2 separate regions of the Homo sapiens genome follow, and region 1 is linked to region 2. The links come from fine-mapping of genetic effects on gene expression. A gene starts in region 2. The other region holds a variant in brackets. All regions are shown on one strand. Distances are from middle to middle.

Evidence for each region. PIP is the estimated chance that this variant, and not a neighbour inherited with it, causes the effect. A credible set is the group of variants that fine-mapping cannot tell apart.
Region 1: its variant is the best candidate, but not a certain one, in a credible set for the expression of ADAMTS16 in cerebellum (GTEx, PIP 0.89).

Annotation. Positions count from the first base shown.
Region 1 is chr5:5,216,086-5,220,478 of GRCh38, reverse strand. The region is part of intron 10 of ADAMTS16 (ADAM metallopeptidase with thrombospondin type 1 motif 16); the gene reads right to left. Among named protein-coding and RNA genes, the nearest start is that of ADAMTS16-AS1, 42 kb to the right of the region's middle. The variant A/G (reference allele first, on the strand shown) is at 1,842.
Region 2 is chr5:5,138,710-5,143,036 of GRCh38, reverse strand. ADAMTS16 (ADAM metallopeptidase with thrombospondin type 1 motif 16) reads right to left here and starts at 2,707. Exons shown (of 23, transcript NM_139056.4): 1 at 2,498-2,707; 2 at 2,271-2,373. The coding sequence starts at 2,569. It overlaps ADAMTS16-DT (ADAMTS16 divergent transcript), which reads left to right and starts at 2,983. Exons shown (of 4, transcript NR_109915.1): 1 at 2,983-3,081. ADAMTS16-AS1 (ADAMTS16 antisense RNA 1) reads left to right here. Exons shown (of 2, transcript NR_198969.1): 2 at 666-899. RefSeq lists an enhancer at 2,935-3,501.

The DNA.
Region 1 (4,393 bases), 77 kb before region 2:
GTTTTAAAATGTTAAATTATTGGCCGGGCGCGGTGGCTCACACCTGTAATCCCAGCACTTTGGGAGGCCGAGGCGGGCGGATCACGAGGTCAGGAGATCGAGATCATCCTGGCTAACACAGTGAAACCCGTCTCTACTAAAAATATAAAAAATTAGCCAGGCGTGGTGGCGGGTGCCTGTAGTCCCAGCTACTCGGGAGGCTGAGTCAGGAGAATGGCGTGAACCTGGAAGTTAGAGGTCGCAGTGAGCCGAGATGGCACCACTGTACTCTAGACTGGGTGACAGAGTGAGACTCCATCTCAAAAAAAAAAAAAAAAAAAAAGTTAAATTATTTTACTATGTTCCTTATCATTATCTGGTACAGTGCTTGCTACTCGTCTTTCAATAAATGCTTTCTGGGCACATGGAACATGTAGTCATTTGCTCCTGTGAAAACCAGTGACAGAGGACCAGGAAAGCTTTACGTACAATAACATTAGCAAGAATCAGGAAATCGTGATCATAAAAAGCCAAAGATGACTTAAGATGACCATGATTCAGACTACCATTCAGAGTAACTTCAGAATATTCTTAGGTTTTAGTTTTGGGGAGCATTTTGCAGAATAAATACTGATGATGATATTGTTAAAGGTTTGGGCTTTCAACTTTTTAAAGTATAAAGCCTTCAAATATAGGATGCTGGTGACAGCTCACTGCCAAGTCATGTGGCTCTCTAATTCAGTCTGTGATTCGGCTCATGCCATCTGTGTTTTTCAGCCTCATTTTGGGACCTGCTCAATCCCCAACTCCAGTCCTCAAGGCTGGAATAAATCACAAAGTTAGAAGAAACTGACGATCATATAACCCACGGTATTGTCTTTCAACACTTAAAACATAATTTGGGACCTTGGTATCCTGTAGATGTACTTGTCTGCCATTTAATAAACATGACACTCTGTCCCATACAAACGAATAAAAACTATAGTGTCTTAAAGAGTTGCGATGACAAAATAAAAATATTGTACATTCTCATTCACACGTGGAAGTGAAAAAATGGATTTTGTAGTGGTGGAATGATAGTTACCGGAGGCTGAGAAGTGTAGTGGAGGGGGATGGGAGGAATAAAGAGGAGTTGGTTAATGGGTTCAAAAATACAGTTAGATAAAAGGAATAACACCTAATGTTTAGTAGGGCCATAGGGTGACGATAGTTAACAACAATTTATTGTATATTTCAAGATAACTAGAAGAGTGTGATGTTCTTTACACAAATAAATGATGAACATTTAAGGTGAAGGATATCCCAGTTTCTCTGCTTTGAATATTACACATTGTACGCCTGTATTGATATGGGAGGGGGCAGGGAGTTGCTGAGTAGAGAAGGGGGGGTCCCTGGAGAGGGCTCCACACTCAGGCCTGTACCACAGACCTAAGTGAGAACAGACACTCCTGTTTTCATGCCCAAATGTCGCATTTTCCAAGACTACTCTGGCCTGCCACGCCCCCGATCCTGTGCCCGTGGAAACCTGAGACCTTAATGGGCACACACAGTGGCTGAACGTGGTCAAGAGAAGCAGAGGAACAGACCAGCAGACACCAGCAGACCGGCAGACCAGTGACGGTGGAAAGATGAATGACGTGGCAGAGGAAGAGAGGAGGGATGTCTGGATGCTAAGGGGAATTCAGCTGGGGGCAGCCAGAGAAGGGTCTGGCCACTGGGCAGCCTGACTCCAGGGGAAGACCACCTTCCCACTCCATCCTGCTCTTCTGATTCCCCATCCACCTTGCTGAGAGCCACCTCCACTACTCAATAAAACCTCGCACTCATCTTTGAGGCCACAGGGGTGACCCAGTTTTTCCAGT[A/G]CACTGGGAAAGAGCTTAGGATACAGAAAGCTGTCACACTGGCCCTCTGCCCTTGGAATAAGGCACAGGGTCTATTGAACTGGTTAACACAAGCCATCCACAGATGGAGAAGCTGAAGGAGCACACCGTAACACATGCTCACTTGGGCTTTGGGAGTTGCAGACACCCACTCCTAGAGGCTGCCGTGGGGCCGGAGCCCAAGAGTGCTCCCCACAGTCTCTGTACCTGCCTGTCTGCGTGCTCCCACTAGGGGTTTGAGCAGAGGGGTGACAGAAGGAGCGAGCCACACCCCTGTCTCATGTCCTGCAAGGGGGAAAATGGAACTCTTCTGTTTCAGTATCGATGTATTACAAGCACCCCATAAATATGTGCAACCATTCTGTATCCATAAACATTAAATAGAAAAAGTTAAAAAAAGAAAAGTAAACTACAAATGAGCAGCCAAAAACCAATTGTCCTGTCCAACTTTATCACTTTGACTTAACTGCTAACTTTATGGTACATAACATACCATGGTTTTATTAAAGCACTATTGTTGTAGGTCATTATATCCTTAATGAAACTTCAGAGTCTTCTTGGAACAAAGATCCTATTAAATCACGGTTCTAGAGTCCAGGCAGTTGGAATGTAAGACTTGCTGGGTTTTGGGGTTACTCCCAATTTAACAACAGTACCTAGGATGCTGAGGTGATCAAATTTCAAAGCAATTCTGGCGGCTTATGTTTCAGATTGCAGGGTCAGGCCACCAAAGCAATGATGATAAAGCATGATAGGTACACGATGAAGACAAAATGTTTTTAATAACAAATACCTAACTTGGGCAGAAAAGAGTCAAAACCTACGCAGAGTATTTACTCTTGCTTTATCTTTGTAGCTAAGGTATACTATCTTTAATGAAGCCTCTCTCTTTTTATTCTAGTCCATAATTTAAGAGTTATGTTCACAAAAACCAATTTCAGTAATACCAACTTGGTTAAGGTTTAACACCACAACATAACACCCCAGGTAAAACCAACATTTTCAGATGGCTGGGCTGAAACTGCATTGTGGTGCTTCAATATTGTGAATGGCACACTACCAGATTCACTTCCTCAAATTGTCTGTACTACACTCTTCAACTTGAGTCGGATTACAGACTCAAACCTAAGACCTGAAACTATAAAAATTCTAGAAGATAACATTGGACAAACCCTTCTAGACACTGGCTTAGAAAAGAATTTCATGACCTGTTCACTCTGATGGTAGTTTCTTTTGCTGTGCAGAAGCTCTTTAGTTTAATTAGATCCCATTTGTCAATTTTGTCTTTTGTTGCCATTGCTTTTGGTGTTTTAGACATGAAGTCCTTGCCCATGCCTATGTCCTGAATGGTAATGCCTAGGTTTTCTTCTAGGGTTTTTATGGTTTTAGGTCTAATGTTTAAGTCTTTAATCCATCTTGAATTGATTTTTGTATAAGGTGTAAGGAAGGGATCCAGTTTCAGCTTTCTACATATGGCTAGCCAGTTTTCCCAGCACCATTTATTAAATAGGGAATCCTTTCCCCATTGCTTGTTTTTCTCAGTTTGTCAAAGTATGTTTATTGCGGCATTATTCACAATAGCAAAGACTTGGAACCAACCCAAATGTCCAACAATGATAGACTGGATTAAGAATATGTGGCACATATACACCATGGAATACTATGCAGCCATAAAAAATGATGAGTTCATGTCCTTTGTAGGGACATGGATGAAATTGGAAATCGTCATTCTCAGTAAACTATCGCAAGAACAAAAAACCAAACACCGCATATTCTCACTCATAGGTGGGAATTGAACAATGAGATCACATGGACACAGGAAGGGGAATATCACACTCTGGGGACGGTTGTGGGGTGGGGGGAGGGGGGAGGGATAGCATCGGGAGATATACCTAATGCTAGATGACGAGTTAGTGGGTGCAGCGCACCAGCATGGCACATGTATACATATGTAACTAACCTGCACAATGTGCACATGTACCCTAAAACTTAAAGTATAATAAAAAAAAATAGAAAAAAAAAAAGAATTTCATGACCAAGAACCCAAAAGCAAATGCAATAAAAACAAAGATAAATAGCTGGGACCTAATTAAACTAAAGAGCTTTCACGTGGCAAAAGAAACAGTCAGCAGAGTAAACAGACAATCCACAGTGTGAGAGAAAATCTTAACAATCTATACGTCTGACAAAAGACTAATATCCAGGATCTACAATGAACTCAAACAAATCAGTAAGAAAAAAAAAATGGGCTAAGGACATGAATAGACAATTCTCAAAAGAAGATATACAAATGGCCAACAAACATATGAAAAACTGCTCAACATCACTAATGATCAGGGAAATGCAAATCAAAATCACAATGCAATACCACTTACTCCTGCAAGAATGGCCATAACTAAAAAATCAAAAAACAGTAGATGTTTGTGTGTGGATGTGGTAAACAGGGAACGCTTCTACACTGCTGGTGGGAATGTAAACCAGTAAAGCCACTATGGAAAAAAGTGTGGAGATTCCTTAAAGAACTAAAAGTAGAA
Region 2 (4,327 bases):
GTGTAAGGAAGGGTCCAGTTTCGGTTTTCTTCATATGGCTAGCCAGCTTTCCCAGCACCATTTATTAAATAGGGAATCCTTTCCCCATTGCTTGTTTTTGTCAGATGTGCCAAAGATCAGGTGGTTGTAGATGCGTGGTGTTATTTCTGAGGTCTCTGTTCTGTTCTATTGATCTATATATCTGTTTTGGTACCAGTACCATGCTTTTTTGGTTACTGTAGCCTTGTAGCATAGTTTGAAGTCAGGTAGGTAGTGTGTGACACCTCCAGCTTTGTTCTCTTTGCTATTTTGTAATTACTTCAGCCACCAAGAATGATTTGCAATAATAGTTTGAGTCATGCGCTACTTTAAACAAAATGTATGGCTACAATTAGTTATTTCAGAACCAACTTGTCTAATGGATACCTAGACAGGCAACAGTAAGTTGACCCCAGCAGTCACCAAGTGTCTTCTAGCTCTTCTGCTCCAGGTCAGAGGGAAACAGGCAACACTGTTGAGGAGGATCTTTTCTCTGGTGGCATAAAAGCTTGTTGTGGATGTCCAGACTCACACATTAGCCATTTATAATTAAGGAGCTAAAGTGCATAGAAGGTAGGGGAGGAGGGTGTGTGCTGTGTCCACTGGGCTAGAACTTCACTAAGAAGGGTTTGCCTCTTCCCCTTCAGGTTCTTACCAAGCCAGATAAGTGGTTGTCATGGAGACGATACGTTGTGACAACAACTGTGGTGCCAGGTGTTCAGAGCAGCACACTGGCACCCCACTCCCAGAGAGGATGCTGAAGCAGATTGAATCACTTTAGGAGAAAAGCACACTTAGGCACGAAGCCCTGGCTTTTCTTCTTCTTTCTTCTGTGTCTATAATGTGTTTTATCTTAAATAAAACTTCATAAATGCCATAAACTATTGTGGAAATCTCCTGAGTCCCTCTGGAATTTTCATGGTTTTAGGGAACTAGAATTTTTTTTTTTTTTTTTACAAAAATCTTACTTAAAAAGGTGAATTAGAATTAACCTTTAAAATTGTAAGAATTAACTTTTAGTATTGTAAGCAAAACCCTAAAAAGGACAAGGACAACCACAAGAGGATAGTCTGTAAATGGACAGATAATTAACTTTCTCTTGTAAATTCACTGTGACAATTTTTTTTAACATTTTATATCATTTGCACCTAGCGCCCCCTGGTGGTTCTCAAAAAGGTACTATGGTGAGCGTCAATCTGACACCGGTCACCTTATATACTATTTGTGTACTCATTTGGCAGGGAATAATTTCAAAAGTTAATGCATATATTAAGTGCTTGCCTTTATGTTATTTTATCAAATTGAAATAACTATACTGAGAAATTCTGAATTGTTAACTTTAATTTTCTAGATCTTCTGGAAATACATTGAGAGAATGAAACCTAGTTCTTCCTATAAAAGTCAATTAATATTAACATTTGATACGGCAATTTATTGTTGGTAACAATGCAAAATAATATTTATTAACTGTCATTGGATGGGTTCAGGTTAAAAAACCACCTAGCAACCAGTGCGACACACCTGCGTTCTCATTTACCTGATGCAGTATGAAGACACAGAGATCCCTTTCCATAAGACAGCAAATTTCCAAATGTCACTTGTAAGTGGCAGAAGTAAAAGCATGCATTGAAAAAGAATAAGACTTGCCCTCATGTCAAATTGTGGCCCAGGATATGAACGTTGCTGATGGTGTCACAATCAGCTGATTAGCCATTTCAGGCACTATTATGTTTGAAGTACGCCCTGATTGTTGGAGCATTAACTTTGGTATTGAGATGCTAAGCGCTTCTTTTATCTCCTTCACTGAGAATAAGCAACGATAGAGGAATATTTTAATCTATAAAGGAGGAGAAGGAGGAAAGGTTGGGGACGGGAAGGAGGATCCGAGGATGTAGAAGGGGACGGAAAAGAAAGTAATTTGCTCTTTATGACGGCTTTGATGCATACATTAATAGCTTTAGATTCTTCCTAAGCTCTTTAGAATAAAATAAAATGAACTTCCTCACCTTTTTCCTAATGTTATATCAATAACTCTGGCAAACCGTTTTGCCAGGGAATAAAATGTAAATATTGGTGGAAATCCACTCATCGGGGCTCGCTCATACAGTTAAAAAAAAAAAAAGTTCACAACAGCATCTTAAAAGTAGGGTTCCACAGAGTCGTGAACATTCACAGCACCTAATAAACCAGCGGCACGGAGATTACGAGCTGCTAAATGGCAAGGATTAGAAGCCCCCACCTCACGGACTTACCGCCCTTTTCCATCCAGCCCGGCCGCTCCGCGGGTGGAGGAGGACGCGGGACGCTCGGGCTCCCAGGCGCTGCCGCTGCGGGTCCCATGGCGCACGCAGGTGCCTGCGGAAAACAGCGGCGACATCGCGGTGAGACGGCGGGGTCCGCGGGAGAGGAGCCGCGGGGGACTCGCCTCCAGCTGTCCGGACCCGCGGTTTCCGCGCTGGTGGGAGCGCCCGGGACTCACCTGCTCGGCCACCTGCGCCAACAGCATCCACAGCGCCGCCAAGCCCCGCCATCCGCGCGCGCGGGGCTTCATCCAGGAGCGCTCCGAGGGGCTAGGGGCCACCGGAGGGTCCCCGGCCGGCAGCGTGCGAGCGGGCAGGGAGGACCCGACCCAGGCAGAGCGCGGGAGGATTCCCCACAGCGACTCCGCCGCCGCGCCGGGGTTATTACTGAAGCTCCGTGCGGCGCGGGGGGCGGAGTGGCAGCCGCGGCGGCGGGGGCGGCGGGAGCGGTGGGAGAGCGCGGGGCGGGCAGGGGAGAGAGGAGGGGAGGAGGTGAGGGCGGGGGGGTCAGAGGACCGAGGAGGGGAGAGTGCAGGGACAAAGAGCAGAGGGGAGGAGGCGAGGTCAGCGGGGCGCTGAGGCGGAGGCGAGCGGGGAGCAGAGGGAAGGCGGGAGACAGCGGGCAGCGCCAGAGGAGGAGGACGCGGGAAGATGGAGCTGCCCACGGCCTGCAGTCCGTGCCTCTCTGCCCGCGCGGGGACCACACAGTTGGAGAGGCTGCCGGGCACCGGCGCGGGCGATGCTCAGCATGGACCTCCGGCCGGTGCGCGCTCCTGCCCTGCCTTGGGGCTGGGGACTCGGCGGGACTCCAGCTACTGCAGTGGCTCCGCGGGCTCCCACCTCCGGGCCGCACCGGCGCCGCCAGAGGCCGGGACACCTGCAGCCCGCGGAGTGCGGTCTGGCCGCGCCTCTGTGCCCGGGCACAGCTGTGGGGACACTGGGTGCGGAAAACCGGGCGCCAGGACGTGGGAGAGCCGCGGACCTGCCTTTAAAGGCGCGTGCCTCGCTCTGGAGTTTGCGGAGCGATCGGAGACGGGGAGGCTGAGGAGGAAACTCTTCCCCCGCGCCATTTGCCCCGAGATGTGGCGGCGCTCCTGGCCCCGCGGTCACGGCCACCCTCAACTGGCCAGGCCGCGGAGGCCGGTGACTGGCTGCTGGGTGCAATCCCTAGGGAGGTCTCAGGGCTGCGGATGGGCCTGGGTCTCGGCCGCCACGGGGGTCGATCGGGCTACTGTGTGGACAGGGTGGCCAAGGAGGCAGCAGGTGTGCGGTCAACAGCCTGGCCAGAATTCTGCTGTAGCTGGATGGGGTGTGTGAGCGCGCGGGTGTACATGTGCCTGGGTGTGCGCGGGTGTACATCCACACCTGACTGCGTGTGCGCGAGTACACGCTGTGAGCCCATAGTGTGTCTGGAATTGGTGGGTTCTTGGTCTCACTGACTTCAAGAATGAAGCCGCATACCCTCGCGGTGAGTGGGTACAGCTCTTAAGGTGGTGCGTCTGGAGTTTGTTACTTCTGATGTTCAGATGTGTTCGGAGTTTCTTCCTTCTGGTGGGTTCGTGGTCTCGCTGGCTCAGGATTGAAGCTGCAGACCTAGGCGGTGAGTGTTACAGCTCTTAAGGCAGAGCCTCTGGAGTTGTTCGTTCTTCCCGGTGGGCTCGTGGTCTCGCTGGGCTCAGGAGTGAAGCTGCAGATCTTCACGGTGAGTGTTACAGCTCATGAAAGCAGAGTGGACCCAAAGAGTGAGCAGTAGGCCGGGCGCGGTGGCTCACGCCTGTAATCCCAGCACTTTGGGAGGCCGAGGCGGGCGGATCACGAGGTCAGGAGATCGAGACCATCCCGGCTAAAACGGTGAAACCCCGTCTCTACTAAAAATACAAAAAATTAGCCGGGCGTAGTGGCGGGCGCCTGTAGTCCCAGCTACTTGGGAGGCTGAGGCAGGAGAATGGCGTGAACCCGGGAGGCGGAGCTTGCAGTGAGCCGAGATCCCGCCACTGCACTCCAGCCTG